Linked DNA regions of Homo sapiens. The protein of the gene in region 2 purifies or fractionates together with the protein of the main gene of each other region. This does not show direct contact. Each region holds a gene or a part of one and is shown on either strand. Other genes may lie near its edges.

Evidence for each region.
Region 1: the proteins of NLRP11 (region 2) and CRY1 purify together in Homo sapiens (co-immunoprecipitation; one large-scale study listed by IntAct). This does not show direct contact.

The regions. Positions count from the first base shown.
Region 1 is NC_000012.12:107,083,380-107,087,200, forward strand, and holds part of CRY1 (cryptochrome-1), read right to left. Parts: intron 1-3,821.
Region 2 is NC_000019.10:55,829,872-55,833,792, forward strand, and holds the start of NLRP11 (NACHT, LRR and PYD domains-containing protein 11), read right to left. Parts: upstream 2,129-3,921; 5' UTR 2,092-2,128; intron 1-2,091. UniProt on the Homo sapiens protein: Involved in inflammation.

The DNA.
Region 1 (3,821 bases), on a different chromosome or scaffold from region 2:
ACACAACAAAAAAAGAAAATTTCAGGTCAATATCCCCAATGAACATCAATATGAAAATACTCAATAAAATACTGGCAAACCGAATCTAGCAGCACATCAAAAAGCTTATCCACACGATCAAGGCAGCTTCATCCCTGGGATGTAAGGCTGGTTCACCATATGCAAATCAATAAATGTAATCCATCATATAAACAGAACCAATGACAAAAACCACACAATTATCTCAATAGATGCAGAAAAGGCCTTGGACAAAATTCAACACCGCTTCATGCTAAAAACTCTCAATAAACTAGGTATTGATGGAACGTTACTCAGAATAATAAGAGCTATTTATGACAAACCCATAGCCAATATCATACTGAATGGGCAAAAGCTGGAAGCATTCCCATTGAAAACTGGCACAAAACAAGGATGCCCTCTCTCACCACTCCTATTCAACATAGTATTGGAAATTCTGGCCAGGGCAATCAGGCAAGAGAAAGAAATAAAGGGTATTCAAATAGAAAGAAAGTCAAATTGTCTTTGTTTGCAGATGACATGATTGTATATTTAGAAAATTCCATTGCCTCAGCCCCAAAACTCCTTAAGCTGATAAGCAACTTCAGCAAAGTCTCGGGATACAAAATCAATCAGCAAAAATCACAAGCATTCCTATACACCAATAATAGAGAGTCAAGTCACGAATGAACTCCCATTCACAACTGCTACAAAGAAAATAAAATACCTAGGAATCCAACTTACAAGGGATGTGAAGGACCTCTTCAAGGAGAACTACAAACCACTGCTCAAAGAAATAAGAGAGGACACAAACAAATGGAAAAACATTCCATGCTCATGGATAGGAAGAATCAGCATCATGAAAATGGCCATACTGCCCAAAGTAATTAATAGATTCAATGCTATTCCCATCAAGTTACCATTGACTTTCTTCACAGAACTAGAAACAACTACTTTAAATTTCATATGGAACCAAAAAAAGAGCCTGTATAGCCAAGACAATCCTAAGCAAAAAGAACAAAGCTGGAAGCATCATGCTACCTGACTTCAAACTATACTACAAGGCTACAGTAACCAAAATAGCATGGTACTGGTACCAAAACAGATACATAGACCAGTGGAACAGAACAGAGGCCTCAGAAATAACACCACACACCTACAACCATCTGATCTTGACAAAAACAAGAAATGGGGAAAGGATTCCCTATTTAATAAATGGTGCTGGGAAAACTGGCTAGCCATATGCAGAAAACTGAAACTGGACCCCTTCCTTACACTGTATACAAAAATTCACTCAAGACGAATTAAAGACTTACATGTAAAACCTAAAACCATAAAAACCCTAGAAGAAAACCTAGGCAATACCATTCAGGACATAGGCATGGGCAAAGACTTCATGACTAAAACACCAAAAGCAATGGCAACAAAAGCCAAACTTGACAAATGGGATCTAATTAAACTAAAGAGTTTCTGCACAGTGAAAGAAACCATCATCAGAGTGAACAGACAACCTATAGAATGGGAGAAAATTTTTGCAATCTATCCATCTGACAAAGGTCTAATATCTAAAATCTACAAGGAACTTAAACAAATTTACAAAAAAAAAAAAACCCATCAAAAAGTGGGTGAAGGATATGAACAGACACTTCTCAAAAGACATTTATGTGGCCAAAAAACATGAAAAAAAAGCTCATCATCACTGGTCATTAGAGAAATGCAAATCAAAACCACAATGAGATACCATTTCATGCCAGTTAGAACAGCGATTATTAAAAGTCAGGAAACAACAGATGCTGGAGAGGATGTGAAGAAATAGGAACGCTTTTACACTGTTGGTGGGAGTGTAAATTAGGTCAACCATTATGGAAGACAGTGTGGTGATTCCTCAAGGATCTACAAACAGAAATATCATTTGACCCAGCAATCCCATTACTGGGTATATACCCAAAGGATTATAAATCATTCTACTATAATGACACAGGCACATGTATGTTTATTGTGGCACTGTTCACAATAGCAAAGACTTGGAACCAACCCAAATGCCCATCAATGATAGACTGGATAAAGAAAATCTGGCACATATACACTGTGGAATATGAAGCAGCCATAAAAAAGAATGAGTTCATGTCCTTTGCAGGGACATGGATGAAGCTGGAAAGCATCATTCTCAGCAAACTAACATAGGAACAGAAAACCAAACATCGCATGTTCTCCATAAGTAGGAGTTGAACAATGAGAACACATGGACACGGGGAGGGGAACAGCACATACCGGGGCCTGCCAGGGGTTGAGGGGCAAGGGGATGGAGACCATTAGGACAAATACCTAATGCATGTGGGGCTTAAAACCTAGATGACAGGTTGATGGGTGCAGCAAAACCACCATGGCACATGTATACCTACGTAACAAACCTGCAGGTTCTGTACATGTATCCCAGAACTTAAAGTATTAAAAAAAAAGCAAAAACTAAAGCTGCTTACAAGAGCTTAGAGAACTCAAAACAAAACAAAACAAAAACAAAAAACCTCATACACAAGAAAAACTTTAAAACTTTTTAGAGACTGGTTAAGAGGTTGTGATAAAAATGCTGATTAAAATATAGACAGTAAAGGCCACGTTCATGAGATCTCAAATAAAATTTTTAAAAACTAAAACAAAAAAATGGCCACATTATATGTTATGCTTGTTAACAAAAAACTTGGCTACATTGTATCCATGCCTAGGACTTTGTAAAAGGCTGAACTTAAGAGTAATGACTTAAGCTACCTGGCAAAAAAAAGTTTCTAAACAACAAAGCGTTCAAAAGGTGACATGGCTGCTTCTAACAGCCTACTATCAGATATGGGAGTTCAAAAAAAAGACAAAGTTAAAGCTAATAATTAAGAGAAAAACAGAGCATACAAATTTGAAAAATTTACAACCTAACCATGTGGTAGAGGGAAGTTTTCAGGAGAGAAATCCAAACTACCTAGCCCCAGGTACCAGGCCCTGACAGAACAGGTTGTTAAAGCAATTAACATGAATAAAAGAGAGCCAGTTGTTAACAGTCAAGACAATGGGGAAAAGCCCCCAAGACATTCCAGAAATCAAGGCTACCCCTTCCATCACAGGCTCAGAGGCCTCCTCGGGCAAAATGGTTTGGGAGGCCAGGCCCAGGGTGTTGCTGCCTTGTGCGGTCTTGAGATGCTACTCCCCACGTTCTGGCTGCTCTGGCTGCAGCCAGGGCTCAAAAGGCCCCAGGTACTGTCTGGACTGCCACTCCAGTGGGTGCAAACCATAGGCCTTGATGGTTTCCAAGTGGTGTTAAGTCTGCAGGTATACAGAATACAAGATCCATGGAGGTTTGGCAGCTTCCACCTAGATTTCACAAGATATGTCAAGAAGTCTGGCTGTCCAGGCAGAAGCCTGCCACAGCAGAGCTCCTACAGAGAGATTCTACTAGGCTGGTGCCAAGGGGAAATATGGGGTTACAGTCCCCACAGAGAACTCACTGTAGAGCAGCGGGAACAGGGGCACTGCCCTCCAGGACCCACAGTGGTGGCAGTCTAACTAAAGCCAAGAGAAGAAGAGAAAGGTGTGGTCAAATGTGTTAAATACTGTTAAGAAAAAGAAAAAGAAAGAAACAAAGAAAGAAAGAAAAAGAAAGAAAGGAAAAGAAAAGAGAAAAGAAAAAAAGAAAAGGAAAAGAAAAGTCAGGGAGTGGAAAGATTAAAAGTATCCTTTGGATGTAAACAGCATACACCCTCAGCCTGGAAAAGTGACAGACATTAGACTCCAATCCATGAGAGCAGCCATGTGGGCTATGCCCAACCAAGCCATAGAGA
Region 2 (3,921 bases):
AACACTCATAGCCTACTATTGACCAGAAGCCTTATCAACAGTCAATTAACACATAAGTAGACTCACATCTATATTGATTGCATTCATGACATATCTGACTTTAATTTTTTAAGTATTTCTAGGCTGCCTGGTTCATCTACAAGTTGTCATACATCTCCCCCAAAATTCTCCAATATATTTATTTTTGAAACTTCATGTATAAGTGGACACATGCAGCTCAAACCTGTATTGTTCAAGGGTCCACTGTAAATCTGTTTAACACAAGTGTTTTCTTCTTTTAAATCTTGTATCTAGGTGTTTTTCCCCCCTAAGTGAACACAAGTAGATTAGGGATTAGTAAGTTAAGCCTCACCAAGTCCAACCCTTCCCCAAATTCCCAAACTCTTCCCTCCTTTGACTTCTATTTCACCATTGCCTTTGAGCCCCATCCTTGTAACTGAGAGACTTCCGAGTTCAGGAGTCAACTGTATTTCTTTCTAGTGATATGTTTGTCTAATAAAGTAGTTACCTTTAGACTCAAACAGTCCATATTTCCCTAAACACTGTTGTATGAGCTTTGCTTGTGTTCTTTAAGGTATGATTTTTAAGTGGTTTGGTAATAATGCACCAGAAATATTTAATCATGACCCTCTCAGTCTTTAGGTGTTTCTGATTTCATACTGTGACATAGGATCATTCAAGGAAAATTCCATAAGCTTTTTGCCTAGTGATGGCTTCTTAGCTTCCTAAAAAAAAAAAAAAAAATGCAACGTTGAGTGTGTGTTAAAAGCTCTTATTACTTTTCCCAAAGGGCAAAATACTTTTTTTACACCAACCTTTTGTACACTCATCTGACCACACTGCAATGCTTTTTAAGTTGGTTGCTGGAATTTGCTGTTGACTGAACTATAAGGTGCCAACTGAACTATGAGGTGATCTCCAACACCTGCAAAAAAGCTGACACTACAGCATTGCACGTCCCAAGTCGGCGTTGCATCAGATTAGCTGATCACCGCACAGTTGGGCACTTCAAGCACCTGTGACCAGACTTTCTCAAGCACTGAGACACAGGGGAATCACCTGGGGAGTTATCAAAAACCCCAGTGTCCCGAAATACAGACACTGATTAGAGACTTTGGAGGTTGGGCCCAGGAACCAGTATATTGTTCCAATCCCCCCTGTAAATTCAGCACTCAAAGTTAAGAATCAATTTGTAAACTAAAAATAACATGTTAAGACCCACCGCCCCACCCCCCCCATCCCCCCCACCCCCCCGCCCACAACCAACTGAGCGGACCCCCTCCTGGCCAAGATACTTGAAAAACAGAATCATTGACTATGGCAGGAAGGGAGGTCAAACCTCCTCCTATCTCCTTCCTTTCGGAGCCTAGGCACAACTGACGGGCATTAACATTAAAATAGAGCTCAGGACCGGGTGCAGGAGCTCACGCCTGTAATCCCAGCACTTTGGGAGGTCAAGGTGGGCACATTACTTGAGGTCAGGAGTTCGAGACCAGCCTAGACAACATGGCGAAACCCCATCTCTACTAAAAATACAAAAATTAGCTACGTATGCTGGCGTGTGCCTGTCATTCCTGCTACTTGGGAGTCTGAGGTGGGAGAGTCACTTGAACCCAGGAGACAGAGGTTGCAGTGCGCTGAGATCACACCACTGCACGCCAGCCTTGGCGACAGAGCGAGACTCCGTCTCAAAATAAATAAATAAATAAAAATATTCTTTTCATCTCTAACACTTTATACATCACATAGAAGAATAGCATCCATAAGGCTATGATGACGAGTTAGTTAGGTTTAAACACTCCACCCACAGTGCACATACACTTCAAAACATCATGCTGCACACACTACATGCAATTTTATCTGTCAACTTAAATAAGTTTATCAAAAAAAAAAAAAGCATGACCCAAATTTACTCATGTGAACTTGAAAAAGGTAACAGAGCTTGGCCTGCCCTTAGGAACTTTAGTCATTTTATTCCCCAATCATATTATTTCCAGCTCCTAACCAAAGAGAAAGCTAAAGAACCAATGTAACATAATAAAAAAAGACCTTAAAATCCAAACAAACAAATCGGCCAGAAAGGTAACTCACCAACCCTGCCACCAGGTCTCCTTGGCTGGTCGAAAGCAAACAAGCTAGGCAGCGGGAAGAAAAAGGCGGTGCCTGCCCGGTGATTAGCCAGCTGACTCCTCTCTTGATTGGCCAAGGTGGGTTCTTGATGACCTTCGCGATGGAGGGGAAATACTGCTGCACCTGCGTGTTTCTGCCCAGATGCCCCAATTGTCTTTCTTCACCCAGGACTAAACAGGGTCTGCTGATTAGGAGACGGTCCACACCCCGTTTATGATGTTGGAGCTCATGGGGCATCTGACCAAGAACCTCCAAAACAATTGACTTAGGCAGTGCCGGGGGAAAGAAGTTTTCCACCAATAATCTCAATTTCGGATAACCATCTATACAGTAAGCTCCATGAGGGGAATACGCTGTCTAGTCTACATAACCACCTGGCAAGGATCCTTTCAAATCTGAGGGAGGCCATAAATATTTGTGGAACAAATGCAACCAAAGGCATGTTTAACAGGTGATAGAATTTGCGGAGGCACGTCCTAGATCCTCCACCCGGGGGGCCCGTCTTGGCTGCCTATTGGAATCACCTGGAGACCTCTAGTGAAGACTGATAGCTCAGTCCTATGCGCAGGTATCTGCTTTAGTCAGGAGGGAGTATGCTCTGGGTATGACTGATAGAGCTCCTCATATTGAACAGATTACAGAAGAATAGGGGCATCTTCATAGGTGCAAAAGGGGAAATATAAAAGAGTCTATATCTATTCATGGTTTTAGATGTATCTTTGTAAGTTAGGAAATAAAAGAATTTCCTTCACCCAGTAAAGGGTTCCAAAAAAGCAAGAGCAAACAAAAATCTCATAATGGACGGGAAAGTGATGAAAGAATACCTTTTACAATAAGATACAAGATAAACAAGGCCTCCGTCACCACTCTTATTTCAACATAGTGCACCTGTTCACTGGGACAAGAAAACGGATCTGAAAGAAAGAGGCGAAATTATCATATTGGAGATAATTTGAATATCCATGCAAACTCTCTCCCCTTAAATCTATTGATAAATTGTTAGGATTCAAAGCAGCTTTGGTGAATATAAATCAACATACAAATCTGATTGTGTTTCTCTAAAAAAAAACTAATTGGAATTTAAAATTTTAAAGGATGCCACATGCAGTTCCAAGAAAAATATAAACTAGAAATAATTCTTATAAGAGATTGTAAATCTTATTGAATGATATACAATGTTATTGCCATATACAAAATCCTTAAAAATGAAGGATAACATTACATTCTTGTACAGGAATTATTATTATGAAGATGTTAATATGCTCCCAAATAGACCTTTATATTCAGTAAAACAATAAAATCCCAATAGAAATTTTCATATCAAAATATAATTCTGAAATGTATGTGGAAAATAGAAGGGACTAGTACAAGCCAAGAGACGCCTGAAGCACATAGGTGGGTGGGAGGTGGGAATGATGATTGAGTTGGACCTACCCTATAAAGATTTAATTTAAAAACTATGGTAATTAAGACTTATTGGTTGGCCGGGGGCGGTGGCTCATGCCTGTAATCCCAGCACTTTGGGAGGCTGAAGCGGGCAGATCAGAAGGTCAGAAGATCGAGACCATCCTGGCTAACACGGTGAAACCCCCGTCTCTACCAAAAATATAAAAAAATTTAGCCAGGTGTGGTGGCGGGCGCCTGTAGTCCCAGCTACTCGGGAGGCTGAGGCAGGAGAATTACTTGAGCCCGGGAGGAGGAGCTTGCAGTGAGCCGAGATCAGGCCACCGCACTCCAGCCTGGGCGACAGAGCGACTCCGTCTCAAAAAAAAAAAAAAAAAAAAAAAAAAG